Linked DNA regions of Homo sapiens. The protein of the gene in region 3 interacts with the protein of the main gene of each other region in a pairwise test. Each region holds a gene or a part of one and is shown on either strand. Other genes may lie near its edges.

Region 1 (8,178 bases), on a different chromosome or scaffold from region 3:
GGTCTCCTAGAGGGACCACAGGGTGGAGTCGACCCTTGGACTTGGGCTAGAAGCATCTAAGACCCTAATTAAAACAAGGACAGAAGGAATGGTGATAATCGGTCTGTTTACAGAGTGCCAGGCAAGCACTATTATTAGCTCCATTTTATAGACACTCCGCATATATTATCATAGATAGTCTGCATATGTTTAATCTTTCCTACACCCTTACAGGACAGATATTATTATGGTCTCCATTCTGCAAATAGGAGAAATGAGGCTCAGAGGGATGAAGACTTTCTCGTCCACATCCGCCATGCTAGTGAACAGCAGTGCTGGGATCTGAACCCAGGTTTCAAAGAGCATCTATTATTCATTATTTATTGGGGCCTTCCTGGATGCCTGACACTATAACAATAACGACGACAATAATAATACTAATTCCTTGTGTTCCAGGTCATAGAATGTGAAAGGAAAATAAATCTTGGGGCCCCCAAATCACTAAGCTAAAGGGAAAAGTCAAGCTGGGAACTGTTTAGGGCCAACCTACCCCCCATTCTATTCAAAGGCAGCCCTCTGCTCACTGACATAGATGCATTATCTGTTTGTCTCCTTTGGAAAGGCTAATCAGAAACTCAAAAGAATGCGACCATTTGTCTCTCACCTACCTGTGACCTGGAAAACCCCTCCCTGCTTCAAGTTGTCCTGCATTTCTAGATCGAACCAATGTACTTCTTACATATATTGATTGATGTCTCATGTCTCTCTAAAATGTATAAAATTAAGCTGTGCCCAGACCACCTTGGGCATGTGACAGGAGGACTTCCTGAGGCTGTGTCATGGGAGTGTCCTCAACCTCGGCAAAATAAACTTCCTAAATGAACTGAGATCTGTCTCAGATTTTCTGGGTTCACAGGTATGTACACATTTTACAGCATCACCTCACTTAAAACAACAATCCTTATGGTATAACCATTTGAACCCTAATTTCCAGATGAGGAAACAAAACAGAAGCACAAAGTGAAGTAATTTGCACATCCTGCTGGTTAAAGTTGGAGCCAGTTTCGGAACTCATGCCCTGCTCCCCAGCCAACTCAGAAATCTGGCTGACCCTGTCATCAGCACGTGGCCCCAGCGTGTCTCCCAGCCCACCACACCCGCTGGAGCCTCTGATGTTTATAATTCTACCAGGACTGGCTTGAAACTCCCCCTGAATGCTGCTGGGGCTTGTTCCTGCCCAGCCTGTGTTTGCAATGGCTTTGACTGATTTTCTGGAAGGCAAGCCTCTGCCGGGAACACATTCTTTTTAATGGAGTGTTAATCAGGAGGGAAGGAAAAGAAAGATTTTTCTACTGCCCAGCTTCACAGGGGCTGAGCTTCCTGTCTTCTCTCATTTTTCCCCCTAGTATGTTTATTTCTCCCAGGGTGGGATGCGGCAGTGAGAGCCCTGGGCCTAAAGCTGTGCATAGGCCCAGTCCCTACTCCACTCCTATTGCTGACTCATGGCATGACTGTGAACGAGTCCCACCTAGGCCTCAGCCTCCTCAGCTGCAAGATGGGCCTACCCTGCTACCCTGGAGTGGACTGAGGATGATTTTGGAGAAGTATAAGAATGTCAGCCCACCCTTGGCACCTAGTAGGTGCTCAGTAAATCATCACTTCTTCTTTCTGGCCTCCTAATTCCCAGACAACCTGGGTCTGACTCCTTGGTGGCCTTGAACAAGTTACTTTAATCTCTCCGTGCCTCAGTTTCCTCATCTGAAAAAAGAAGATAAACAGTACCCACCTCCTCTGGTTGTGGTATTAGCTGAGATATTATAGGCAACAGCAGTTAGCAAAGTGCTGAGCGAATAGTTAGCACTCAGAGTTACCAGTTAGTGTTACTACAATTACTGGTAAGCCTCAGTTTCCCTGTCTGGGACAAGGAGAGGTGTTTCACCGGAAACCAGTTGCGGTTATTAACACTATCATTGTTCAGCCTTAACGTGCACTTCTAGACTCTGTTATGATGCTGGAGTGCACAAAATCCCGTTTCTTCTTTGTTTTTTAATTCTTTGATATCTGCTTAACCTATTCTTTATATTAAATGCCCTCTGTCAAAATATCCAACATGGTTTCTATTTTCCTGTCTGTACCATGATTGATGAGCACCCAGAGGCCCCAATAGCTGAGTCAGGCAGGTTAAGATCTCTGCTGGGAGCCGGGAGAGAAGTTTTCCGTAAAGATAACTTTGCAGGCTGCATTCCTGAGCCCTGAGGTCACCTGTGTCACACTGTCCCAACGTCAGCTCCCAGGAAACTTTCTCTGGCTATTCCCAGGGCTGAGGGCTACATCCCGGCCTCCCCATTCTCTCTCCCTCCTGCCCCTGACTTACCAGACACCTCCACGTATCCATCTTTGGTCTTCACCATCAACTCCTCTGGCTTGAAGCTGTGCACATTCACACACACTTTCCAGGGCTCCCCAGGGAAGGGTGGGGGGGTCCTGCCCTCGGCAGGCACCCCAAACCTGGCGGTGGCAGTGGGGCCCCGGGGCACCATGCCCGACCTTAGGGTGCCTGGCCAGGCGGAGGAGAGACGAGGCAGAGCCCAGTCGGGCCAAGAGGCTGTCAAGTCGTCTGGGAAGGGGTCCATGCCAAAGCCATCATCCAGCAGGCGAGAGGAGAGGGGAGAGTCCCGGAAGGGGTCTCGGCGCAGGCGGCTTGGGTAGTGGCAGGAGAAGGGCATCTGACCGTCAGCCATGGTGGCTGCTCAGCTCAGAGAGAAACAGAGGCTCAGAGAGACAGAACCACCTGCCCAAGGTCACACAACAAGGTGGTGTGGCTGGGCTAGCTTATTCTTCAGCTTCCGAAAATGCTGCTTTTCTGCAGGGAGAAGCAGAACCAACCACTGCCAGGGACGGTTGTGTCCCCTCGACTGGGGTCCCAGCCCCCAAAGGTAACCCCCGGGGCAGATCCAGCAGAATCCCAGAGGGTCCCCGTCCGCACTGCCTCACGACAGACCGGCAAGCCACCGTCCTCCCAGGCTTCCCAGGCTGCCCAGGCTGGCAGCCAGAACCGCTGAGGTCTAGAGCGGAGCCAGGAGCTTAATAAACCCAGGGCACGCGCGCCTAGAAACTTCTTCTGGCTCCTTCTGGGCTGCAAGCCTTCTATTTATTTGCTGCTGGAGGCTGGAGGCGGGTTTTGCAAGCGTCTCCTGTCACAGGAATATTCGGAGGTGATGAACCAGCCCCGGAGAATCCGCGGAGGGAACAGCTGGGCTGTGGGGGGAGCTGGGAGGGGCCGCGTCCAAGTTCAGCCGGCCTCTCCGGACACTCTCTCCTCCCCTGGCCACTCCGCTCAGCTCCGCCCTCCTCTTGCTCCAGGAGCTGGAGCCGCCCTCCCCGAGCGGGGCACTAAGGCCTGGCTATTAATAACCCCGAGCCTGGCTGAGGGCTCAGGTCACCCTCTGGAAATACCTTCCCTAGAGCGTGTCGTATCCTGCCTTTCCCCTGGGGACCTGCAGAAAGGGAAGAGAGAGACAGGAGCCCAGTGGATTTGAAGGATGGCCCTGGGTTGCAATCCCCACTTACAAGATGGCCAAGCTCCTAGAGCCTCAATGCCCTCTGGGGAGATTGGTAAAGGAAAAAAAAAATTTTTTTAATGTGTATATATATATTCATATGACGCTTGTTAAAGTATGACAAGCAAGACTTTACTGGGCAGGGAAACTTTCTCCATAGATGTAGGGACCCCTGCAATGGGATTTTGCAGTGAGGGAGAAAGATTAGACTTGATTCCCAGTAGGTCATGGGTAAGTGTGAATTTGTAGCCAAGAAGCAGGTGGGGGGTCAGCGAATGGAAATTTACTAGGAGGGAAGTCCAGGAGTCAGAGGGATTCGGGCTCAGCTAACCTAAGAGGATTCTTGCTGAAGACAGGCCAGGGTGCTCAGACATCACCTGGGGGACCGCGGAGGATGAGGAAACTAATCAGATATCGAGGGTGATCAGAAATCGAAGATGGGTGGTTGCTACTAAACAGACTTAGCAGAGTTCATGCCAAAACTGAATTTTTCTTTCTTTCTTTTCTTTTTTTTTTTTGAGACAGAGTCTCACTCTGTCCCCCAGGCTAGAGCGCAGTTGCGCCATCTCCGCTCACTGCAACCTCCGCCTTCCAGGTTCAAGCGATTCTTCTGCCTCAGACTCCCGAGTAGCTGGGATTATAGGCACCCGCCATCGTGCCCGGCTAATTTTTGTATTTTTTAGTAGAGTTGGATTTCACCATCTTGGCCAGGCTGGTCTTGAACTCCTGACCTCATGATCCACCTGCCTCCACCTCCCAAAGTGCTGGGATTACAGACGTGAGCCACCTCGCCTGGCCCAAAACTGAATTTTTATAAGGAACCTCACTGATGGGCTTAGGAGAAGATTCAGAAATCCGATTAATGTTTGGTCAATCAAAGCATCTTTATAGGCAGTAACATTATTCCCAGGCACCTCCAGGTTGTTAGTTTTCCTCCTTATAAACGGACATAACAGTAGCCAACTCACAGATGTACCATGAAGAATACATGAGGTAATTCTCTTTCTCCTTGTATTTTCAATTTTGAGTTATCAATTACATAATGTTTGCTATATGCCAGGCCCTGCTCTATGGGCTTTATAAATATGAATTCATTTAACCCTCACCAGCAATCCTGTGAGGTAAGAGTACCAGTATTATCCCATTTTACAGATGAGAAAACTACCATAGAAGTGTTCATGAATAGTAGCTTCTATTATTATTATGACTGTTAATACTGATAATTATTGAAAGATGTTACACTCAGGCAGGAGGTCTGGTCTGAAACTCAAAGCCCCAAATCTAGACTTTCCTGCTCTTCCCATGCAGCTGGAAGAATGAATTTACAAATCCTCCTTTGGCTTGGAGGCCTCTTCGGCTTGGGTTCTAATCTTTGATCTGTCCGCAACAGGCAGAAAATTTTAGGCATGTCGTTTTCCCTGTGTGGGCTTTCGGGTCTCAGCCCTGCCTTCTTCACGAGATGAGGGTAAACTGAGGATATTAAGGAATTCAGTGAGTCATAGGTTGAGAAATTGTTTTGATATTAAACAGTGAGTGCATGAGGCAGTTTGCTAAAAATAATAATACGGAGAAAAACAATCACTGTCGCCCATTGCCTCCTGTGCGTCTGCTTTTAGAGTTAGTACATTTCAGACATTACTGAGTTAAATCCTGACTCGATAGTTAAACGTCACTATTATCATCACCCCCATTTTGCAGGTGAAAAAACAGAGGCACAGAGGTTTGACCCTTGCACACAGATATGGAGTGGCAGAGCCTGGGTGGGAACCTGGGTTGTTCTGAATCCCGGATCTGTGCTTAACCGACAGACAGAGACCCCTGCCCTCCTCCCCAGCTGAGAAAGAATGGTGGGGACCCCACGGCATGACATGTCCCGAGTGACTGGGCCCCCACTGGATGTAGGGTGAGCTCATCAGGCTGGAAGCTTCGGGCTGACGTCATGGCTGGGCACAGAAGCTTCAGCTCTCTCTGTAATTACAGCTGGGCGGGGCTGGCTGAGTTGGAAACCAGTTGTGGGGAGAATCACTGCAAGCCGCATGACGCACCGGAGAAACCTGGCCCTGCCTGGGACCTGGGCAGGGGCTGGGGTGAGGTTTCTGAGTGGGTGGGACAGAGTGGAATGAGTTTGTGTGCGGATTTGAGTGGGTGCAGGAGTGAGTCTGTGTTTATGCGCCGATAGGTCTGTGTTTGTTTATCGCCGAGTCTGCTGGTGGGTATGTTCAGGAAGAAACTCCCCTCCTTTTCCCTTCCCAGGCCATCCCCAAACCTCCAGAGGACCCCTCTGCCTCAAATGAGGCTCAGTTGGGACCAGGGGACCTGGAAGGAGGGGAAGCCTGGCGAAGGAGCAGGGAACCGAGCTGTGATGACCTAATCCACCTTCTCATTTCAAGGATGAGGGGGACGAAAGGGAGGATGCAAAGGTAGAAAATAGAAATAACAATCACTGGCATTTACGGGGCACTTGCCCCGTGCCAGCTTCTGTTCTGAGCACTTTAAATGTATGTTCCTAAACTCTTTTACTTCTCCCCACAATCCTATTAGGAAGGATGTTTTTAATTTATTTATTTATTTTGAGATGGAGTTTCACTCTTGTTGCCCAGGCTGGAGTGCAACGGCATAATCTTGGCTCACTGCAACCTCTGCTTCCCGGGTTCAAGTGATTCTCATGCCTCAGCCTCCAGAGCAGCTGGGATTGCAGGCACCTGCCACCACCCCTGGCTAATTTTTGTATTTTTAGTAGAGACAGGTTTTCACCATGTTTGTCAGGCTGGTCTCGAACTCCTGACCTCAGGAGATCCACCCACCTCGTCCTCCCAAAGTGCTGGGATTACAGGCATGAGCCACCATGCCCGTCAGGAAGGATGTTTTATTAAACTCATTTTAGAGATGAGGAAACTGAGGCACAGAGAGATTACCTGACATGCCTATGTCAGTGGCAGAGCTGGGATTTGAACCCCGGGCAGTTTGGTTCTTGTCTCATCTGCTACACTGCCTCTGAAGTCAAAGTCATGGCTCACATTTATTGAACACTAACCATGTACCCGGCCCTGTGGTCAACAGTTTTATCCATGACCTCATGGAATCCTTGTGGTTCAGAGAGGTCAAGCCACCTGCCCTGGACCACACAGCTGACCAAGGATTGGAATCCAAGCCAGGGCGCACTTGGCAGTGCACGGTAATAACCACTATGGGACAATATTGGCCCAGCCTTGCCCAGCGAGCCTTCCACACTGCCTGGTGTCCTGTTCCCCCTTGGGCTCTCATTGCATTTCTGGATCTGGTCAGCCCTTCATTTCAGGAAGCTGAGGAGGGAGGCAGCTGCTCCTGCTAACTCGGCCACCTGGTGAGGAGTTAGCTAACACATGAGGAAAGTGGTCACTAAACCCCATGGGCTGTCACCAATCAGGTGAAAATATGACGCCAGGCTCAGGGGAGGCCCGGGAGAAGAAGGGGCCTCCAAGCTGGTTCCGCCAGGGAAGAAGAGACCTTAGAGGGGACTGTGGTACAGGGGAAGGATGTTAGATCCTGGGAACCAGAGCCACGTTTCTCTTGGCTGCCATCCTCATAGAGCTTTCGTACGGGGCGTACCACCATTAATTCTCAAAACAGCCCAGGAGGTAGGTGAGATCACCCTGCATGCCTGAAACTGGGGACCAGCTGGTGGGGACAGAGTAGTCTGAAGCCACACAGGTAGTGCTGGGACCAAGTAGGACAAAGACATAGCTGCCAGATTCTGTGCCTTTTCTTTTCAATGTAGTAAGAAACAAAAGTTCCCACCCTCCCCTAGGGGATTCCCAGCCCCCAGCCCCTCCCCAGGGTCTGAAGACCCATCTCAGAGTTAGTTCTTTTGGGTGGCTCTGGATCCCAGCACATCCTCCAGAAAATAGGAAGTAAGCATGCTCATGCCTTTTTATTTCTTTTGTTTCTCAGACCCCCCCTACAATGACACTAATGGAATTCCCAGCATACTCGGCTCCATGAAAGCAGGACCCTTGGGAGTCCTGTTCACAGTAGCATCCCCAGCGCCTAGAGGGAGCCTGCTGCACTGTAGAAGCCCAGCATATCTTGGATGAGTAGATGATGTCGTATCAGCAACCCTGGGTCTGAATTGCCAACTCCCACTGGGTAGACTCTACATGCAGTAACAACATCAACATATTAACTAATTTCTGCAGTCCATAGAAGGTGCCGGGCACCAAGGTTTCCCAAGCGTGCTCTTTTTAATTTTCATCACAGCCCCCTAGAGGTTTTATACTATCATTATTCCCTTTTTACAGATGAGGAAACTGAGGCAAAAGACATGAGGTGACCTGCCTGAGGCCACCAGCTTATGGATTCTGAACCCAGGTCTGTCTGAACTTTAAGCCCAGGCCTCTTTTCTCTGCCACACACCCCAGCAAGAATGAATAAATAAACAAAATAAAACAAACAGCCTGCACTGGGTCCCTCCCTAAATGAGCCTATGCCCTCACAATCCTGGGAAAGTAACACTTACTTATTGGAGCTCTGGCTTTCTTCTATTATTTTCTCCAAAATTCTTTCCAGGAATTGCCTTCCCTGACCACCTCTGCAAATAATAATGATAGCAGTAGTAATAATAATAATAAGTGCATATTTAACATTTAGTACCAATTGTAAG
Region 2 (7,774 bases), on a different chromosome or scaffold from region 3:
AGGATCAGGAGAGAGAGGAAAGAGATAAAGCGTATGAATGTGTAATAAATCGATGGTATTTTAATTATCCAGAAAGTACAAGATTCTCTGGCATATGCAACACATAGTACATTTTAATATCTCTGTAACAAGAGCATCTGCAGCAGAAAATTCATTTATATGTAACTTGTAGTCTAATGTATAGGTGAGTCTTTCAGAACAAACTACAAAGTTGGGAAGAGGGAAATGAAAGAACTTAAAAAAGAATGATGACAGCTTGGGTGGAGCCATCCTTGCCTCTTTACTGTTTGATGGCTTGATGTAGTCTTCTGAAACCTCTTTGGCCTCTACAGGTCACAAATCTCAAGGGTTTCTAGACTTCCCATAAGTACAGTTGTCTTTTACACTACAAATCAATGACAACAAATTGGGGATCACCAAGCCACTTTACAATTGAGTAAATTCAATGCACCTGCTGCTTGTACTGCTCTAGGAATGAAAACACACAGACAGCTCTCTTTCCCAAACTTACTAGACTGGTGCAAAGGTCATTGTGGTTTTGGCAAAAAAACCCCACCAAAACCTAACATTTTCTTTTCTCTTATCCATCTTCATACCCAGGACAGACTGACTTACCCTTGCAAAACACTTTACTCTGGTATCTGTTAATGATCCCTCAGGCCATTGCTACTTGTTTATTCCAAGAGTATCACGGACAATTTCCTGATTTAACTCTTCTAAACTTTTCTCACTTACAAAAAACGCTGCAAGTCTGGACTTTGGTTTGAATATTCTTTAAAGTTCTCTAGTTCTTTTTCATGCGGGTCCACTTACTCCACCTCATTTTTAAAATATAAAACTTGAAACAGGCAGAATTTTCATGGGTACTAATGAGTTTGAAGATGGGAAAATGGAAGCTCCAACCTTGGCCGTGAATGCACTTTCCCCATTCCCCTAAACAACCTAACATCTGACCTTCCACTTCCCACACCCCACTAAAGCAAAAAATCCCGGGAAATTGTCTACCTGACTTCCTGTACCCCAAACATCAATTCTCTACTGTAATATTATGGTAGTTTCCATAGAATAATCATAGCTAACCAAGAGGTCCAAGGCCCTCATAACACATTTAATGCACTGAAACCACACAACAGCAGGAAACAACAGACTACTGCCTTGGGCCAGGTGCTGTTCAAAGCACTTAACATATATTAATTAACTAATTAATCCTCACAACCTTATGAGTAAATACAATTATTGTTGCTATTTTACCAGTAAGAAAACTGAGACACAGCTAGTGGAGTGAGCCAGAGAGTCTAGCTCCAGAGCTCATGGTCTGTGTTGAACAACTACATGTATATTTCCACTATGTGCATAACAATTTTTTGGAGATGAGAGTAGACAGCCAAAACTGTGGGTTTTTTTTTTTTTCTACTAAGAAGTGAAGGGGAAGTGATTCCTCACACAGTTGACTGAATAGGAGGTGAAATAAAGAACTCAGACCTCCAACTCCCACCTTCCCTAAGTTAACCCACTGCTCAACACACAACTTGACCAGCTGACTCACTAAAAAGAAATAGGAGACTCCTTCTTCTAGACTGACTTAGCCTGCCATTTTCCTTTCCAGTCTCTCAGGACCTAATTAAAAACTGACAGTTGATTTCTTTTCCTAAATTAGAACAAGGAATCTCACAAAATTAGGAAGGGATGAAAGGTTAAACACCTCAGCCATTAGCTGAGTTGAACTATCTTTCATTTGCTTATTATTCAAAAAGTTAGGATAATAAATTTATACTGTATTCTTCTTTCCTGCTTAAGGCTTGTCTTTAAATTTAAGCTGCTTCTCTTTAATTCAGTGGCATATGCGCTAAATGTTTTCCCTAGATTATGTTCATTCATCTTCACAACCCAGAAAATAGGTATAATTTTTCATACTTCACAGATGAGAAAACTGATGCTTTACAGAATTACTTGTTAAATTACTTGCTGTACATTACACAGATATTAAATGTGTGTGAAGTTACTGGGGCAATTTAGACGATTCGTGGCATAAAGATAACTGCTGGAAAACTTATAAACATAGGGGTGCAACAATCAGGAAGAGAATGAAATGGAAGGGCCCAGTAGCCCCCTTTTAATATGCTACAATTAGATTCTCAAGGTACAAGAGTTTGTCTATATACTTTGGAAATAAGGAGCAGGATTTTATGATCTTGAAAAATCTTTCAGTTTTCTTATTCTCTAACGACAGATCTATTTTATTTGGCAATGCTAAAAATTATCCTTTATTAGGGTGGCCAATGACTAAGCCAGCAACTGGGAAGCAGCTTACACCACTGGGCCTCTGTAGCACTCACTTCCCCATCTGTTAAGACAGCCATGGCCATTTACCAGTGGAATTTCTACTGTCTTCCCGCTGGCTCCTTTCTGATGTAGCAGTCCTTATCCCTTTTTCTCCAGCAGCCTACATGTTTAGAAAAGCAGCCTCAATTGGCTAAAAGGCCTAATGCTGAAAGAACTCAAGAGAGAAGGAGCCTCAGACAAGTAGCGGCTATGTCCCAAGAGCGGAAGCTCCCCACAACGAGGAACACAAGATAATCCGTCCATCAGCCATTCTTATCCACACCACAGTCGCATCCCCCTCAAAGCTCTCCCAGGGTGCCAGAAATTCTCGCTCTGTCTAGTGTCCCGACTTTCCAAGCGCTTGTAGCCATACCCTCTCCAAATGATGCCACTTGACCTCCCACCGTGATGCAGGCCAAAATTCCTCCTACAAATAAATCCACCAACACCTCCAACGGACTCCATACTTGGGGTATTTTCCTTTCCCTGCTTTCTAAATATCGTAAATCCCCTCTCTGGTCTTGGAAGTCCTTTCTCCCTCACACCTTTCGGAACTCCGTGACTCTCCGCTCTCATGCCTCCGCCTCCATTCTACCCTTAGGGCTCCTCAGCCAGATCTTTGGCTAGAACCATGGTCAAGGGAGAATGCGATTCCGGCTCCTGTCACAGACGCTTAAGTGTGAGCGCAACCCAGCCCGCCTCCTCCTCCACGCCCCTCACACTCACGTGTCGTGGGAAACTGGAGTAGCCAAAGCTCAGAATCCCCAGTGAATACCCTTCTGGGGATGGGAGACGGGGCCAGCTAGGGGCCGGCCGCAGACCCCGGTCCCAGAGCTAGTTTCAGAGGCCAGCGTTCCCCCTAGCGCCTCGCTGTGCCCCACTCTGGGAACCGGAAACAGGAAGCGCCAAGAGGCCGCTGGGCAACCGCTCCTCCCACCAGACCCCGCGGCATGTGACCATAGAACCATTTCGCCCCTTTCCCCTTCCCGGGCTCCCTGATAATCTTAAACTCTGATTGGCCAGTATTCTGGGACTTTAGCTCCGCCCTCGTTCCATCAGCTCCAATCACTATCGAGGTTGTCGTTTCGCCTTTTCTGGTTGCCTTTCTTTCAATGGGGTCCCAGAGTCCCGCTTCCAGGGCCTCTCGGCTCGCGCACCCCGGTCACGCGGGGTCACGCGCCTGACCGCTCCCGGGTAGGGTTCGAGTGAAGAGGGTGAGAGGGGCAGGTGGCGGAAGCGGAAGTTACGCAGGCAGCTCGCCCTCGGGCTCCGCGGGAGTTGTAGTTCTCACGCTAGGTCTCCTCCGGGCGCTTCCCTAGCCCGTTCGCCGCCTGAGAGGGACGCTGTTCCGCCGCGTGGAAGCTTCGAGTCTCGACTCCACTGTTGACCCCTAGACGAGAGTAGTGCAGCGACGGGGCCGTGATGTGCGTCCTGGCTTTCTTAACGACACCTCTCCTCTGTATTTCCTTTTTCCAGTTGAGTACCTTGGGGTGAATTATTATTGTTACTGTTATCTCTGTCGTTCCTTACTGCTTCGTGGTATTTTGCTTGATAAGCATGCTCTGCAACCACCTCTGTTCGCCAGAGGTTACTTCTGCAAAGTAGGAAGAAACGAGCAATACGATGGTAATCTTTGCGCCTTTGCTAAGATCTTTTGTAGGTTCCTTATGTCTTACTAGCCACTTGTTGAAGTCCTGCTCATTCTTAAACTCTGTTCAGATGTTATTTTTCCTGTAACTTCGTGCATTCACTCTCTTCAGAATTAACAATTTCTTCCTGTGGACCCTCGCTTGTGGCTTGTACCTGGCTTTAGCATGTTTTCATTCCGCTTCCACTCTTACGTTGCTTCTATGTGTGCCTCTCTGGCTCTATGCAGGTGCCTGGATTTTTGATTCTTACCCCTCTCATTAGAACTACTACAGTGTTTTGAGTCTAATAATAATAAAAGCTAACGGATGCATATCTCGGTGGTGCCCGGCACTTTTGTAAGTGCTTTAAACGATAGTTAATTCACTTGGTCTTCACACCAACCTTATGAGGAAGTATCTTATCCCAAGTTTACAGATGAGTAAATTAAAGCAGATAGAAGCTAAGTAACACCGTGGGTCCCAAGCTATTAAGTTATGGAGCCAGTATTTAAATAGTCTCCATAATCCATGCTCTCAAGCACTACGCTTTACCGACTGTATGCCATTCTGCATTTCTTTGTTTATTAGTAATACATTCAGTTCAGGCTAGGTAGTAATCATATCTGGGTTGGATGTTGCCCCAATAAAAAAAAAAATTAAATTTTTTTCTTCCTGAAAATGAAAGTAATTTGTGATCAGATAACACAGAAAACAACAAAACAAAAATCATACATAAACTCACCAGGAGGGTGTGTATTTCCTTCATGAATATATGTTGTTTCCTTTTTTCAAAAATGTATCAGTCCCACACTGTGGCTCATGCCCGTAATCCCAGCACTTTGGGATTCCGGGGCAGAAGGATCACTTGAGGTCAGGAATTCAAGACTAGCCTGGGCAACATAGTGAGACCCCTTCTTTCAAAAAAAAAAATCAGCTGGGCTTGGTGGTGCACACCTGTAGTCCCAGCTGCTTGGGAGCCTGAGGCTGGAAGATTGCTTGAGCCTGGGAGTTGGAGGCTGCAGTGAGCTATGGTCTTGCCACTACCCTCCAGCCTTGGTGATAGAGTGAGAACCTATCTCAAAAAGATATGTATGTATCAAATATTTTTCCATATCCTTGACTTTACAAATAAACTTTTTAATAGCATAATATTTAGTTCTATGCATTGCTACTTAACCAATGACATTAATGTTGAGCATTTAAGTTATTTCTACTGACTTATTTTTTATCAAGTAACTCAACACAGCTTTACTGAGCAATTACTATGTGCCAAAACCACAGAATATATAATATAGATCTTGGGGATACAGCAGAGAAAAAAGACAAAAATCCCTGTTACAATCCGTTCTAGAATTGATGTTCCTTTGTTGGTTAATTCAAGTTTTGATTTCAGAAATCTTACCTCTTGGTGACTGCCTAGAGTGGCATTGGGCTGGAGGGGAGGAACTGTTCATGTTGGAAATGGGGAATGGGCCAAAAATGCAATTGAGTAGGTTGATTAACTTGTCTGCTGTCAGAGTGGAAGCAGGGGTAGTTTCCCTTTCCGACCAGAGGCAAACAACCTGGGTCACTTCCTTGCTTCTCAGACCTCAGTGCCCTTTCTGGGTGCTTTCTGTGTTAGAATTCTCACCTCTGAGAACTGAGCTCAAGGTTCTTGCTGGGGCAAAAATTGAAATGAGCAGAATTTTTTTTTGTTTGTTTGTTTGCATTTCTGGCCTGCCTCCTTTCTTAGCCTCATTATTAACAAGCACACTCCCCACAATAAACCTACACCCACACTGCCTTCTCTCACACAAGGTAAATTGTTCACCTTGTTTAGAAAGCAGTTCTAGGATTGTTGGTCTGAAATCAAATGGGAAGGATGCCTCCTGTTCTGTATAATCATAAGAGAGGAAGGTAATTAACAGTCCTAGAACCTCAGCTTCCCAAGTAGCTGGGACCACAGGCGCAAGCCACCATGCCCAGCTAATCTTTGTATTTTTTGTAGAGACAGGGTCTCACATTTTTGCCCAGGCTTGTCTTGAACTCCTAAACTCAAATAATCTGCCTGCCTCAGCCTCCCAAAATGCTGGGATTACAGGTGTGAGCCACTGAGCCCGGCTCAGATGCTTTTCAAAATGATCATGTTTTCCATATTTCAAGGACTAAATATAGTTTTTGGTAACTTTCAATTTTAATATATTTATCATTTATAGAGAAGATGCAAGGATAATACAAAGAACTCTGGTACACATTTTACCTAAATTCATCTTTTTCCCCTCCATATACATTAGTTTATTTTGAACAGGTTGAGAGTAAACTTCCATTACCATTAAATATATCAGTGTGTATTTCCTAGAAACAAGGACATCCTCTCATCAAAATCAGGAACTACAGTATTAATACAATATTACCAAATCCATAGTCTGTATTCAAAATTTTATCACGTTTCAATAGATGCTATGTATAGTTACTTCCGATTTCCCAACAATCACAGGAGCCAAGCCAGAGTCACACATTGTAATTAGTTGTCATTGATCTTACTTGACTTTGAAATTTTGATAGGTACTGGCCACTTGTTTTGTAGAATGTCTTTCATTTTGGTTTTGTTTGATATATCTGATGTAGGATTTTTCTCGGTCACTTTGCCAACCAGGGACCCGTCCATAGCTAGTGACACCCCCCCCCCGCAAAACCCCCAGGCCTCACTTGACCTGCTGCCTGTGTTATAGTTTGTATCTGCATTCGGTGGTTCCTGAACTCTTGTCCCACATCCAAGAAGAATGAGGATATGCTGACAATTTGAAGGATGAGAAGGATGGAGAAGAATTTTATTGAGCGATGGAACAGCTCTCAGCGGAGAGGGGATGTGGTAGGTGGAGGTGGTCCCCCACCCCTGCAGTCAGGTGGTTTCTCACCCAATGTGGCTAGGTCTGGGCATTTATGGATTCAGAATGGAAAGTGTGTGCTGATTGGTTTGTGAGTATGCAAAAACAGTTAAAGTGAAGACACCACTCAAAGGTGGGCACGACAGTGTAGAAAACCAATTAGGAAAGGGTAGGTGTATATAAAATGGGTGAAAGGTGGGGATCAATCAAAGAAAAATGTGCCAAATGGGAAGACAGGTTTTTAATCCGGTCCATGGATTTGACTTGTAGCTTGGCTTTCAGGCTTTAAACTGTCTTCAGCTTGGAGATGGGGTTTCACTGGGGATCTGCCTAGGCATTTGTCTGCCTCCTGCGGCTATCATTTCCTCATGATTATATTTAAGTTTGCATTTTTTTTGGATAGAAATGCAAGGGAAGTGATACGTTTTTATATCAATCAGGGTCCATTCAGAAACAGATATCATATTGGCGATTTTAACAGGAAAAATTTAAAGAATTATTTTCTAGTAAAAGATGATCAGTTACTAAAAGAGGACTCTATGATACAGAAGAAGCAGCTACGAAAAGGAGCTGTTACTTCTAGGGCTGAAGAAGAGTTAATAAAGGAGTTACTTAAGTTAAAGGAAATGCTCCCTTCCCCACCTGCAAGATTAGAGATTCAGATCTCTGAGGGGAGGGTGTGTTTCCTACCACAGGAACATGCAGTCCACCCACTGATGAGGCCGAGAAGTTGCGGGAGGGTGTGGGCCTCTGTTGAGCAGCCAGTGGGAGCCTTTTAGTGGTGCCTCCTTTATCCTTTTGACATGTCCATATGATTTTTTGAGGAATTCTTTACTTTCAGGCACATAAGATGTTCCGATTTTATCTTGTAGCATTCAGCATGAATGGACCTGGAGGACATCATGCTGAGTGAAATAAGACACACACAGAAAGAAAAATATGATATGATATCGGTTG
Region 3 (7,487 bases):
CTCCCTGTGGTAAGCATGGAAGATGGTGTCATTCTCTTGTGGGCAAAGGCTATAGGTCCACTTCCTTCACGGTGATCCAGAATACTAGAACTTCGAAATAATGATCGCCTGCAACCCCCAAACAAACAAAAGCATTAATGACTTCCAAAAGGATGAAAACATGGATGAAATGTGCGGTATTTCTTTTTTTTTTGAGACAGAGTCTCACTCTGTCGCCCATGCTAGAGTGCAGTGGCGTGATCATGGCTCACTGCAACCTCCGCCTCCTGGGTTCAACCAATTCTCCTGCCTCAGCCTCCTGAGTAGCTGGGATTACAGGCACCAGCCACCATGCCCAACTAATTTTTGTATTTTTAATAGAGACGGGGTTTCACCATGTTGGCCAGGCTGGTCTCAAATTCCCAATCTCAGGTGATCTGCCTGCCTCGGCCTCCCAAAGTGCTGGGGTTACAGGCGTGAGCCACTGCGCCCAGCAAAATGTGCAATATTGCTTAGAGAACAAAATAATGTAACATTGATTACACTACTTAAATTTTCAATAACCCTTACAATCTGATTATTTCTCTTTTTAAGAATTTATATTCTTTCTGAAAACAGATCTGAACTAAAAATTTCAATTAAACAAAATCTTCCTACAGAAATTTAAGAAAATAAAACATTAAGTACTTTTCAGCTACTGAGACAAGATAAAATATCCAAAGGATATAAAATAGTTTACCTGCACTTTCTACACTTGTAGAGAACCTCATCTTTCAATCCTTGTGAAACGGTAGTTGGGTCAACAGCAAAGAGTTCTTGAGGTAAATTCTGCAATTCTATATGACATAATTAAAATGTATTTATTTGTCAAAATCAACTCTGCATTTTCAGATAAATTCAGTTAATGTCAAATTGAGGCAACAAGTGCTAACCTCAAAAATTAAAAAAAAAAAAAAATCAAATTCCAGTGTTGAGAAATCAGGCTAAGGTAGGAGAGGACAGTGATTTAAGTGCTTAGGTTCTGGGCACGGGCTGCCTGAATTCAAATCCTGACCCTGCCATTTATAAACCATGTGATTTTGAATAGGTTATTTCTGGCTAAATCAGTTTCAAAAAGAAACAATAGTTTCTCAGGGATTGCTGGAAGTAAGGTAAAGCATACAATGCTAAAGTAAATGTCATCTAGAAAGCCCATTACACACTAGCAATTATTACTTACCTGGATACTTCTCTGTAACCTTTTGTAAACGATATTGCTTATAAATTGCACTAGAGGTATCCACTTCGTATCCCATTGCCTGGTATAATTTCAGTTGCCACTCAAACCCCTCATTCATCCTGTAATGATAAAGAAATATAAAGTTTCATTTTCTTAAAATTATATCACAAAAGCATAATTATTACTATAAAAAAAGAACCCACTTAGCCTCTGGTTTGAGAATCTGGAGCTTTTCATAGGCTTTTTCAAAGGGAAGTTGGTCAGTCTTCATGAGAAAAGCAGTTATTATGGCCACACTTCGACTGACTCCTGCATGACTGAAAAAGAGACCTTTAAAATAAAACAGCAAATAGCAACAATTAAAAAAAAAAACACACAAAGCCCAGCCCCCTATTAATAGTAAAGTTTAGGCCCACTTCATTTTTGCTTCTCAAATAAGCCCATTGCCTCTGAAATATTATCAAGGTACAAAATAATTATTCCTTTTTCCTTTTGAATTCTGAACCACGTGAATCTATTACCTATTCAAAAATAATAACAGTAATTTTTAAAATTTTTATAATGGCTCAGAACAAATCCAAACTCCTGGCTAGACACAGTGGCTTACCTACGCCTGAAATCCCAGCACTTTGGGAGGCGAGGTGAGAGGATTGGTTGAGTCCAAGAGTTGGAGACCAGCCTGGGCAACAAAGTGAGACCCCACCTCTACAAAAAATTAGCCGGATGTGGTGGGGTCTGTAGTCCCAGCTACTCTGGAGGCCGAGGCAGGAGGTTCACTTGAGCCTGGGAGGTTGAGACTGCAGTGAGCCGTAATTACGCTACTACACTGTAGCCTGGGTGACAGAGCAAGACCCTATATCAAAATAAAAATAAATAAAACAAAACAAAAACAAATCCAATCTCCTTTCATCTTAGCATTCAGGGACCTCAAAATCTGGTCCCAGACTTCTTTTGATTTCATCACTATCTTCTTTTATGTGCTCAATAAATTTAAACGATTATTATACTCCAATCCAACCAAGAACTGCTTAGGGATTCCCATTTTCTTTTTTTGGGGGGAGGGATGGAGTCTCGCTCTGTTGCCCAGGCTGGAGTGCTGTGGCATGACCTCGGCTCACTGCAACCTCCGCCTCCCAGGTTCAAGTGATTCTCCTGCCTCAGCCTCCCGAGTAGCTGGGACTACAGGCGAGAGCCACCACGCCCGGCTAATTTTTGTATTTTTGGTTTCACCATATTAGCCAGCCTGATCTCGAACTCCTCACCTTGTGATCCTCCTGCCTCCCAAAGTGCTGGGATTACAGGCGTGAGCCACCGCGCCCTGCGGGATTCCCATTTTCTTTTTGTCTTTGCTGCAACCATCTCCTCCCTAGGCAAAGCCCAGGGATCCTTTAGATCCAAACCAATTCATCTCTTCATCAACCACCCGCCACCCATCCCAAACAAAAACATTTAACCCTAAATCTTTGTAAATCCCGTTTACAAGACACCAAGCAACCTAATCTGCATTACAATAATCGGGGTGGGTGTCTAGCTTCTCCAACAGAGCTGTAAACTCCTTAGGGTGTAGGTAATTTGTCATTTATCAGATGACACCTCCCCCGCCCTCTGCTGCTGCAGGAAGAACCAACTAAAGCATGAATGAATGAAAGCCTGCACACACCAGGGGCCCGCCTCAACCCTCCTCCTCTCTTGGAAACACGCCTCCTGCGGGAGGCAGCGGGAGGAGGTTCACGCGGCATGACCGCGCTCTTGTCCTCCCGACGGCCTCGGAAGGTAAGGGGCGACGGGGGCCGGCTGGAAGCTTGGCGGGGCACGTCACCCACTGACCCGGCCACTCACCAGTGCACCAACACCGCACGGCCCTCAGCGCGGGCCTGACCGATGAAGGCCACGCACCGGTCCAGATGGCTGAGTAGGTCCGTCTCGGGTTTGTCCAGCGCTGGCACGAAGAGGCGCCATAGATCCTCGACCCCAGGCCCCGCCTTGAAGCTGGGCTCCTCCGAGTCCACTGTTAGCACGGCCGTGATGCCCGCTTCCCTCAGGTGATCTGGCTCCGCGACGGCCGCGGCCCCACCGAAATACAATCCTGGCTGCACTTCCAGCATCTGCCCGGCACAGCTGACTCTGCTGGCGCTGGGGTTGCTGAGCTCGCAGCCATCACTCGGGCCCGGAGCCTCCAACATGGCCGCGCCCAGAGACAAGGCGGCTTCCTGCCCTACCATCGAGTAGACTCCGGCTAGAACATCCTTCCCCTGGGACTCGCCAGCCTCGGCGGCTCTGCTGCTCCCTCGGAGGACCACGTCGGCCGCAGGAATCTGGACTTATCGCTGAGGGGCGGAGCTTCGGCCCCATTCAGCGCGGCCTTTCCACCCTTGTTCCCTCTGACCCCTACCCCCAAAGTTGATGGTGAAGGATAAGCTTCCCCAAATACAGGGTTTCTCGAGCTCTTAGTATTGAAATTTTCAGGAAAGAGACATCAGGAGCAGCTGAACTCAAATGTGAAATAAATGTCGCACCAGCTGAATCAGAAGCATCATTTTATGCATTTGAAGTAAAATTTTTTTCAATATTATGGAGCCATCTTTACTGTGCATTTCATGATTATTTTTCCTTTTTCTGCCCAATTTCATTATTGGGGTGTGAATCCTTGTTGATGTTTACTGTCTATTTATTTTGAAGATACTAATCCTATATTTTTGTAAGTCAATGTCCTCCGGCCAGGACTACAAGAAACCAACTTTAATTAAGCAAGTTGGTTTTATTACTCAGTCATGAGTTATGGAGAATTTCAGGGCATCTCAGCACGAGGATGTTAGGAAGATCCTCTACAGATTTTGGGCTTTTATTTGGGGATTTTGGAAAGGGTTGAAGGAAGCAGGCTTTGCTCCAGACTGAATGCTGCAGGAAGATACTCAGTACAGTGAGTATATTTTATATATCTTTTGTATAGGGAGGACAGGTGAGAGAGATACTAAAGCTGTAATTGGTCAAGAAGTAGCAGCTATAGTACTGGTATAAAGATAGATACATCGACGTGTCTCTATTCTGGAACAGAACAAACCCTTGCGTGTGGAGTCCTAATTAGGGAAAAGGAGTCAGGCTGGCTGGACGAAGGGAAGCAAAAGGAGAAAGCAGACAAGCCATAAGTCTGCCTTTCTTCGTGGTCCAGGACACATAGCCCTGCTGTGCAAATAACTCACAATCTGCCTGTGCCCAGCCATCACCAGACCCTCAGCTGATAGAAAAATGGAAGTTAGTTCACTGCAACCCTGGCATTATTAGTACTGCACAAAGCCCTCTTCCACCCACAACATAAGCACCATTCTACAAAATCCCCAGCAAGCCTTTGTTTCCTAGCAGTCAGCTTCTCTCTTGCTGACCTGCCTGTTGCACCCTTGCAATGTATTTTCATACTTTATCTAATAAACCTGCCTTTCTTTACCTACAACTGTGTTGGTAAATTCTTCCTACCACCCATGTCACCAGCCCAGAAAGCTGCTAATCACCTGCAACACTGCATATATGTTAGAATAATCTTCAAAAAGAGTGCCAAGACCACACAATGGAAAAAGGACAATCTCCTCAACAGTGTTGGGAAAAACTAGATATCCACATGCAAAAGAATGAAGATGGACCTTTACCTTGGACCATACACAAAAAATAACTCCAAATAGATTAAAGACCTAAAAATATAACATTCTTAGTAGAAAACATAGGGGGAAAGCTTCATGGCCTTGGATTTGATAAAAATGTTGAAACAGGTAAGGGTTAATGGTCTCATTGTCTAAGGTGTTATCCGAACTTGTCTAACGACCGAGAAAACTAAGGAGCATGGGCACAAAGAGTGAGGTTGAAGCAAAAGTTTAATAAGCAAAAGAAGAAAGCTCTCCACAGCAGAGAGGGGAGCCCAAGTGGGGTGCCATTTTTACAGCTGAATTCAAAACCTATTATAAGAAACTCCTCTCATCTCTATAGTTGTTTGAGTAACTTCTCTTATGAATAAATCTGTCTGTGCAACTTCCCTTATCTTCTGCCGATGTGGGTATGTCTCTAGGCAAGCACAAAGCGTGGGTTCTCTTGTTTGTATCACTGTAGGTTTGTTTTAGGTAAGCCCCCCTCCTTCCTGTGCAAGTTCCCACGGAGTCCACTGTGTATATACCTGAAAAGGGGAGGAAAGTTTTTCCTGGGAGCTCGCCAATTACACGAAGAATGAAAAGCGTCTGTGCTGGACCCTACCTGCTTATCTGTGCAGGTGCAGCCTGAGTTTTGCCTAAGCTGCTCTATTTTGTTTGTAGCTGTGATTTTTCAGGCAGACTGCTTCTCCAAGGGCTAGCCTTAGCTGTCTACCTAACTGATTTTTCCTTTTCTTCTCCCTCAATTTTTTGGATAAAATACCAAAAGCACAGGCAACAAAAGCGAAAATAGACAAATGGGACTATATCAAATTTTAAAGTGTCTGCATATCAAGCAAAACAGTCAATAGAGAGAAAAGGAATTTGTATGGAATGGGAAAAAATAATTGCAAAGCATATATCTGATACGTTAATATGCAGAACATATAAAAAACTCCTACAACTCGACAACAGAAAAACAAGTAACCCAATTTTCAAAAAACTGGGCAAACGACCTGAATAGACATTCCTCCAAAGAAGATATACAAGAGGCCAAAAAGCATAGGAAAAGATGCTCAAATTGCTAATCATTAGAGAAATGCAAATCAAAACTACAATAATAATATCATCTTACACCCATTAGGATGGCTAGTATTTTTTTCAAGCACAGAAAATAAGTGTTAGCAAGGATGTGGAAAAATTGGAACGCTTATGCATTGCTGAAGGGAATGTAAAATGGTGCACCCACCAGGGAAAACAGTACGGAGTTTCCTCAAACGATTAAAAATAGAATTACCACATGATCCAGCAATCTCACTTCTAGGTTATATAGCCAAAAGAATTGAAAGTGGGATCTCAAAGATATTTGCACACCCATATTTATGGCAACATTATTCACAATAGCAAAAAGGTAGAAGTAACCCAAATGTCCATCATGGATTAATGGATAAAGAAAATGTGGTATGGGCCGGGCGCGGTGGCTCACGTCTGTAATCCTAGCACTTTGGGAGGCCGAGGCAGGTGGATCACCTGAGGCCAGGAATTCAAGACCAGCTTGGCCAACATGGCAAAACCCTATCTCTACTAAAAATACAAAAATCAGCTGGGCATGGTGGTGGGTGCCTGTAATCCTAGGTACTCGGGAGGCTGAGGCAGGAGACTCGCTTGAACCCAGGAGACGGAGGTTGCAGTGAGCCAAGATCATGCCACTGCACTCCAGCCTAAGGGATGGAGCGAGACTCTGTCTCCAAAAAGGAAAGAAAGAAAGAAAGAGAGAGAGAGAGAGAAGGAAGGAAGGAAGGAAGGAAGGATGGAAGGAAGACGGAAGGAAGGAAGGAAGGAAAGAGAGAGAGAAAGAAAGAGAAAAAGAAAAGAAAGAAAGAAAGAAAAAGAGAAAGAAAGAAAGAAAGATGGTATATGCATATGATGAACTATTATTCAGCCATATAAAAAGAGGGAAATTCTGTCACATGCTACAACATAGATTATCTTTGAGGTCGGGCACGGTGGCTCATGCCTGTAATCCCAGCACTTTGTGGGGCTGAGGCTGGCAGATGACCTGAGGTCAGGAGTTTGAGACCAGCCGTGCCAACATGGCGAAAACCTGTCTCTACTAAAAATACAAAAAAAAAAAAAAAAAAAGGCGGGGCCCAGTGGCTCACACCTGTAATCCCAGCACTTTGGGAGGCCAAGGCAGGCAGATTACCTGAGGTCCGGAGTTCAAGACCAGCCTGGCCAACATGGTGAAACCCCATCTCTACTAAAAATACAAAAATTAGCCAGGCATGGTGGCAGGCGCCTGTAATCCCAGCTACTTGGGAGGGTGAGGCGGGAGAATCACTTGAACCCCCTTGAACTCATGCCACTGCACTCCAGCGTGGGCAACAGAGCGAGACTCCATCCTAAAAAACAAAAATGAAAACAAAACCTTAGCTGGGCATGGTGGTGCATGCCTGTAATCCAGCTACTCAGGAGGCTGAGGTAGGAGAATCCCTTGAACCCCGGAGGTGGAGGTTGCAGCGTGCCGAGATCGCATCACTGCACTCCAGCCTGGGTGACAGAGCAAGACTCCATCTCAACAACAATAAAAACTTTGAGGACATTATGCTAAGTAAAATAAGGCACGACTGTAGATGCTGAGGATATAAAGATGTATGACAGTCTTTGCCCTCAAGGAA
Region 4 (7,482 bases), on a different chromosome or scaffold from region 3:
AAATTTTGGATCTGAAAATCAGGAAATCTCCTGACAACTAATCCATTTCTGGCTACCAGTAATTCAAAATAACTAGTTTTTTCCTTTCCCTCTCCTACCTAAAATTCCTCCCATTTTTGTCATCTTCCTTTATTTTTACTCTTCATTTCCTTTTGATTTCTTAAGCATAAGGGTCATAGGTTTGGTGCTAAGAGTTGGCTGACTAGACTCATTATCTCTGTGAAGTTAGCAACTCTTAACCTCAATTTTGAATTTGAACTTATAATATTGTGGTGTTTTAATAAAATCCACAGGCAATAAGAATACCTAAAGTAGCAGATGAAAAATAAAGCTCTAAATCTGCAAGAAAGAGAAGAAAATCCAGAAATAACGGTAATAATCCTATGATTAATAATCTGAGGCATTATCCAGACTATGACAACAGCACAGGGGCTTTCCCTTTTGAAATCAGCAATAAATGTAAAGCTCATTTCCACATATCCCAAAAATTTGCCTGTAAATCAGCTGTAAGTTAAAAACGTTTGGAAAGCATTTCCCTAAAGGAAAAAAAAAAAAAAAAGGCCCAATGTCTAGTCTCTGGGAATGTTACGAAAGCCTATTAAATTTGCAAGGAGCCAAAGGTATGGCAATTTCAATTTTGCCTTCCTGGAATTATAATGAACTAAACTTCTAAGATGAAATAAATTCATTTGGACCTTCACTGAAGAATTTATAGATGCACTATATACAATGCTTCAAGATTAATCAAACTTTTGGTTATTTGAATTGTGGAAAAGAGGACTTTTGTTCCCTTACAGAATGAAGTCTGCAGGCCAGGTATGGTGGTGTGCACCTGTCACCCCAGCACTTTGGGAGGCCTAGGCAGGAGACTACTCGAGTCTAGGAGTGACTGAGATGAGCCTAGGCAGCATAGGGAAACCCCAACTCTACAAAAAAAACAAAAAGATTAGCCAAGGTGTGGCGGTGTGTGCCTGTGGTTCCAGCTACTCAGCAAGCTGAAGTAGGAGGATCGCTTGAGGCTGGGAGGTTGAGGCTGCAATGAGCTTTGACTGTGCCACTGCATTCCAGCCTGGGTGAGAGTGAGATGCTGTCTCAAAAAAAATAACCACCCAACCCCCACAAAATTAATGGAAGTCCACATCTTAACTCCATATACATCAGTAATTTACATGACTATCTTTCCTAACACAGAGATTTATCTTATTCATACTCCTAAAGTGTAGTACAGTGCATAGTAGTACATAGAAGGTATCTAATAAATGTTTGCTTAGTAAATAAGTGGAGATATAAATCACTTTGGGATTAAACGTATACATTTATATACAGTTGGTGAGCTGCGTTTGCAGAGAACAGGCATATCATAAATAAAATATAAACCTACAATCCCTTATCCTAGATGCAGATGTGTTGCGAAATTCTTATTAATAAGTATTCATGTCTTAGAAAAGTTATCTGGTGTATATATTATGAAATGTGAAATACCCAAGTGATGTCTGTAATCAGGAATATTAAGATTTCTGCAAGGGAACACAAATATTCCTATTAAGTGAAATAAAAACTAAATACAATCTGCTCTATTTGCTGCCACCTTATCAATGGATTCTGAAATTATGGATAAGGGATTATAATCATGTAAAATAGTTTTAATTAACTTTAGGAAGTTTTATCATCTTTCTTCCTCAGCTATTTCTAGGAATGAAATCAAGCAGAACCTCAAAGGTCATAAATTGAGAAACTTAATATAGAAACTAAAAATGTCTAATTGGCTGCTAGCTTGTGCTTCAGTTAGTTAACAATATTTAACTTCCGCGTGTCATACATGCTCTACAGAAGGGGAATAAAGATAAAACAAGGCAGACATTTGCTGCACTCAAGTTGCTCACCAGTTCACAGGAACTTCTAAATTTGTCATATACTGATAGCTATATCAGTCTTTCAAGGATCACCTGGTTTACTTCTACTTTAATCCTAAATGTATCCTCTTAGTTTAACAGTATTTTTCATGATGTTTAAAGATTTCCTCAAAAGGCAATTTCATTTCTTCTTCTCACCAACCATCCCAGCCACAAAGAATATTAAAGATTACAGTCAGAAATGATTCTATGAATAAATAAACCCAGTGACTGAATTTGACCTAAGTTAAAAAACTAATTAATACCTTTCCATAGTAATTCCAGCCCTGGAGGCACTAGATAAAATGGCAGTCAGGGCAATTTGGGAAGGTGTGTATAAAAGGTAAGCATCCGTCAATGCAATTCTATTAAGAAAGTCATCAGCTGTTTTCCTCAAAATCTCTGGATTCTCCAATATGGGATAGCGGGTCTACAAAGAAAGTTTGCAAATGTTACCATTTCTGAGGGTTTAAATGGAGTATAACAACAGTTTAAAAATTACACAACTCCTATTAAGAAATATATGCTATAACATATCTAAAGTTCCTAGCACAGTAATTGACACTGTCCTCAATTTACATTAATCCCTTCTCTTGGTCCTTTTCCACCTGAGTAGGAAGGGGAGGGAAGGGAAGCTCTTAGAGATTCCATTGAGTCTAAAGTAGGGCCAAGAAATACATATTCCCAGGTAAATGCTTCTCTCAGGCAACCCAGGTGATTCAAATGTAAGGCCACATGTAGGAATACACCTTATTTTTATATGAAATTCCTTCTATTTAAAATTTGCTTTCAGGAAGAAGTAAATAAAAATGAATCTCGATTTGATTAGAACACACTAGACTTCGAATTCCCACAGAAAAAGTTTTAGAGTATGCCCAAGAGATGTGGAAGACCTCCTATTTCCTGACAGTTCTTCATACCCTATAAAATAAACTATAAATCCTAAGTCCTCAGATATCCATATGCAACACCTAAAGCACTAAGAAAGCTTTTCTACACTCTGAAACAAAATATTCAGAGTCAATTATGCAAAAATGCCTCACCTGTGATATGACAAATTCAGACCCACTACTCTGACCACAATGCCTCCCTTTCTAATATATTTACTCATTTACTTCACAGCTGTTCTCCCTCCTCTGAACCTTTGCTCACTTATCCCTCTACTTGCTCCCACTCACCAGTGTCCTCTGGTCCTCATTTCTCTCCTGAATTCCCTGCCCCAATATGCTGCCAACAAATTTCTGGCAAAACCAGAAACTGAACAGTGGTTGAATCCAACAAACTTTCGCTTTGCAACTATACCAAGATTTCTGAGGGCTGCCAGAGAAAACCATACAAGCAGAAGTCTGGTAATGTTACTATAAACTCATGTTCATTGACCTCAGCAAGGCTCTTAAACACTGCCAAGCAACCATAGTATTTCCACAGACAATTGACTCTCCTATTTTTCAGTGACTGCATAAATATTTTCCATCTGTCTTAATGTCTTTGATAATTCTCAGAAACTCCATCACTCTCAGAAAACTATCTCTTACCAAAGAAAGGCGCTATTTCCTGTCAACACCAAATCCTGAGGCATAACAGTATCCTAACCCATGATTTCCCCTTTTCCACTGTTAAGAGAAAGAGCTATTATTCCCTCTAAGGCCAGTTCTTATACCTTGCTTCCAAATCCCATGCCAACCCCCTTCCATCTTACTCCAAAGAGACTATTTTGTATTTCATCTTGCTCTCACTACTAGCTCTTTGCCTCAGTATTTAAATGTGCATCAGTCTCTTCCATAAAACAAAACACAACAACAAAAAAACTCTCACCCAGTCAGAAACCTGGGGGTTCTTCCTCTGTCTTCATCTCTATATGCAATCAATCCTCATGTTCTATTGATTCTACCTAACTACAGGCTAAGCATCACAAATCCAAAAAATTCAAAATCCGAAATGCTCCAAAATCTGAAAGTTTCTGAGCACTGACATGACACTCAGGAAATTCTCATTGGAGCATTTCAGATTTTGGATTTGGGATGCTCAACCAGTAAGCACAATGCAAATATTGCAAAATCAAAAAAAAAAAAAGTGTAATCCCAAGTACTTTTAGTCCCAAATTTTTTAGATAAGGGATACTCATCCTGTATCTCTGAAGCCCAGGAAGCTCTTTCTGTATCCACAACCTTCATACGAGTGAAGCCCAGCACTATCTTTTGCTTGGACTCCTTTAACGGTACCCTGTTATTGACTTAATCTATTCTAATCCATTCTCCACGTTATGCCTGACACATACAGATGCGCGATAAATACCTGATCCATAAGGTTGCCAACATGATCTTTTAAAGCTGCAAATCTAATCATGCCACTCTCTAAATTTAAACCTTTCACTAGCTTCTCTTTGCTGTATTCAAAATCTGTAACATTGTCTCCACAGTCTAGACTCTGCCTTCCACTCTGGCAGCAGCTGTCTGTGATCTCTTCCCCCTGCATTGCTAGGCTCTGTTCAGGCTCTTCAGCACGGAATGGTTTCTTGAATTTGAGCTTTTTACCAGGGAAGTCTCTGATTGGAATGTTCTTCTCTCTCCTATTCCTACTCTGAATTTTATTTTAAATGATACGTTCTCAGAATGTTTTCCTTACCCCTTAATCTGTTATCTCCCTCTAAAATATATTTTCCCCTCTGTATCATTGAGCACACTGGATATATGATTGTCTAAAACCTTTAGATTGTAAGGTTCACAAAAGTTGAGACTGTTCCTGTCCTATTTCTGGTTACATCCTCAAGCACAAAGTTTGGCACATAGAAGGTACCCAAATTGAGCCACTGATCTAACATGAATGAACCAATTCCTGATTTGATTCGACTCAGACTATCCAACTTCTCTTTTAGAGCCAAACAAAACAACTTAAAAAAGTTGCTTTTGTCAATGTTTGTTTACGTATATTATTGATGCCTACATAGTGACTTAAGTTCACAAACCTCTAAAAATATAAGTCACTTAGCAATCTTCTAGTTTAAGAATTTTTTATGGTTTAAATCAGGCCCAGATCCATGACAATATAATTCAAAGTTAGAAGAGTTATCTTAAGCCTTTATAGTAAGCACCGTTCTAAACTCTCAATGGTCTTCATTACATCCCTGGATGTAATGAAGATCACTTAAATGAGATTGCAGATCACTTAAATCAGAAACTCTGTAAGTCCCACCCAACAATCTCAGTTAACAATTTCTCCAGATGACTGATGATGCCCACTGAAGTTTGAAAACAACTGCCCTAGATGACCAGGCCAGACCCACAGGTTGTATCCATGCTATAACAACGAGGATGATTATGAGTTTTAAAATTTTGGATTCTTTTGTTAAAGAATAGGAAAGGAGAATGTAGTATTAGTTTATTTTACATCAAGTTTACCTTTAAGTCGATGAGGAAGCCCTCAAATGGTCTGTAAGGATTGTGGACAATAAGGTGGAAATTAAGTTGCTGTATAAGAAGTAGTTCATATTCCAGTATCTGTTCAAGTGCCTTCTCCTGTCCAAGAGGACTCTCCCGGAGGTTTCCAACAAACTGAGGACTAGATACATTGAATTCATCTACTTTGCAGGCCAAAAATGCACAAGTGAGCCTAGAGGAAAAAATAAGGAGGCAGGAGGCAGGGGGTGGGTGGGGTGGAAGAACATGCATATACTTTGAGAAGTATCTAAATAATTTATTTCTAAAAGTATATTCTATAATTGCCTAATATTCAAAAGCGACTGCTAGACATTGCAAGAATTGTTTTTTAAAAGACACTTCCTGTTCACACTTCATTAGGAGACGTAAGACAACTATAAAATTAGGTCAAACCAATATTGCCATGGCATTCAAACATCACTGACTCAATGACAGTGTTATGCAGTACAACCTAAATATCTGGAAAAACAAATTAACTGAGGAATAAGAGTACTTTGTATAATGTAGATGGAAGAGTTAAAAATAAAGCAGTACCCACATATGTACCATGTAAGTATGGGAAGAAAAGTAGGTTAAAGGAACATTGTGGAAGGCCATCGGCAGAAGTCTCTAAGGGCATCTGAATAAGGGACTATTATTTAAGGGACAAACTTGTGAAATTCACCTGGCCACTTCATGCTGTTCAGTATGAGAAAACAGTAAGAAAGCTACTGTAAAAAACAGTTGGCAGTGAGATCAAGGGCCTAATCTTGACTGGTGGAAATGGGAATCAAAAAAGAGAAAACAGGTACAATGTCATTGAGAGCAAACTCTTTGATGAGTTTCATACTAATTTCATTTTTAATGATAGACACAGCGCTCAGCAGAGAGCAGCAACAACAGACCTTTGTTCAACTGAAATGAGTATGAAGCTATAGGATCCGTAAACTGACTGGATGTGGGAGGGGCCACTATAAATGATTCTCAGTCTGAACAACTGGAAGAACAAAGGTGTCTAATAGGAAGAGATGTTAGAGAAGTAGCTAATTTGAGAAAAACAAAATTTGAATCTGGACAAGCTGAAGTTCACATACCATCAGAATTACTGAAGTACAGGTAAACAGAGATCTCAAGTTCTGAATAAAAAAAAAAAAATAGAATTCAAGTCTAAATTACCCTGTATTAGGAAGTCAGTTCTCTCTCTCTCTCTCTCACAATTCTCTCCTCCCAAAAAATACTCAAAAGATTATAAAGGTCTTCTTAAATGAAAACAATATATTAGACAGACATACTCACATTATTATCCTGGGGTGATATTCCATTACTGAGTTATTAAGATAAAAACGTTTGAAATACATACAAGCCGTACCCTAAGGGTTAAAAAAAATATATCATCAGGATCTAGTCACAAATGTTAAATGTTAAATTTTGTGAAACAGAACTTATTTATGGAAAGGTTTCTTTGTAGAGATTACCCAGAAAAATACTAATACTCATTAATTCTTCTTTAATCAAAACAAATTGTGATGAATTACTACAGAAATGCCATAGCCAAAAGATTCTTTCCCATCCTTTGCTTGTCTATCCCCAGCCTACTCTGGCTAATCCTTCCTATGGTCACTGGATTTAAAAATACGTGTGTGTGTGTGTGTGTGTGTGTGTGTGTGTGTATTAGAAATCAGACTATCAAAAATGTTCTGAATTAGATAAATTCAGGAAGAAAAATACAAACGTTCACAGATTAACCAATCTTATAAAAATACTGACAAAAAAACATGGGCAAGGCAATAAGCCTTCTCTCTAAAGCCACTCCATATTTGTGATATAACCATGTATCCATTCCATGATTTGTGATCACTGCTGCCAACTGAATGGCAGAAGCAGCACTACCATTTATTGAATGTATACCATGTGCCAGACTCTGTGCTAAACACGAAACTATCATCATGTTTTAATCCTTACAACAGCTTGGTGAAGTATTACTATCTCTACAGAGAAGGAAACTGAGTATCAATGAGGTTAACTGACTTATCTAGGTCACACAGCTAATAAGGAACAGGAATGAATTCAAGTAAGACCTGCCTGTACTTTTAACCATTATATCATTTGGCTGGAACCAATGAAATAACCACTTATCTATTTTATGATAGAAAAAAGAATATTTCCTTTTAAGT

What was found.
Region 1: the proteins of DUSP12 (region 3) and HSPB8 interact in binary tests that used the Homo sapiens proteins (3 or more experiments, as listed by UniProt).
Region 2: the proteins of DUSP12 (region 3) and M6PR interact in binary tests that used the Homo sapiens proteins (3 or more experiments, as listed by UniProt).
Region 4: the proteins of DUSP12 (region 3) and CCNH interact in binary tests that used the Homo sapiens proteins (3 or more experiments, as listed by UniProt).

Annotation. Positions count from the first base shown.
Region 1 is NC_000012.12:119,173,855-119,182,032, reverse strand, and holds the start of HSPB8 (heat shock protein beta-8), read right to left. Parts: upstream 3,103-8,178; 5' UTR 2,721-3,102; coding exon 2,354-2,720; intron 867-2,353; exon of another isoform or gene 1-866. UniProt on the Homo sapiens protein: Involved in the chaperone-assisted selective autophagy (CASA), a crucial process for protein quality control, particularly in mechanical strained cells and tissues such as muscle. Displays temperature-dependent chaperone activity.
Region 2 is NC_000012.12:8,946,440-8,954,213, forward strand, and holds the start of M6PR (cation-dependent mannose-6-phosphate receptor isoform 1 precursor), read right to left. Parts: upstream 3,207-7,774; 5' UTR 3,049-3,206; exon of another isoform or gene 616-3,048; intron 386-615; exon of another isoform or gene 277-385; intron 1-276. UniProt on the Homo sapiens protein: Transport of phosphorylated lysosomal enzymes from the Golgi complex and the cell surface to lysosomes.
Region 3 is NC_000001.11:161,745,696-161,753,182, reverse strand, and holds the start of DUSP12 (dual specificity protein phosphatase 12), read right to left. Parts: upstream 3,398-7,487; 5' UTR 3,382-3,397; coding exon 3,038-3,381; intron 1,529-3,037; exon of another isoform or gene 1,516-1,528; coding exon 1,402-1,515; intron 1,318-1,401; coding exon 1,199-1,317; intron 816-1,198; coding exon 719-815; intron 109-718; coding exon 1-108. UniProt on the Homo sapiens protein: Dual specificity phosphatase; can dephosphorylate both phosphotyrosine and phosphoserine or phosphothreonine residues. Can dephosphorylate glucokinase (in vitro).
Region 4 is NC_000005.10:87,402,686-87,410,167, forward strand, and holds part of CCNH (cyclin-H), read right to left. Parts: intron 6,679-7,482; coding exon 6,605-6,678; intron 5,502-6,604; coding exon 5,291-5,501; intron 2,323-5,290; coding exon 2,159-2,322; intron 1-2,158. UniProt on the Homo sapiens protein: Regulates CDK7, the catalytic subunit of the CDK-activating kinase (CAK) enzymatic complex. CAK activates the cyclin-associated kinases CDK1, CDK2, CDK4 and CDK6 by threonine phosphorylation.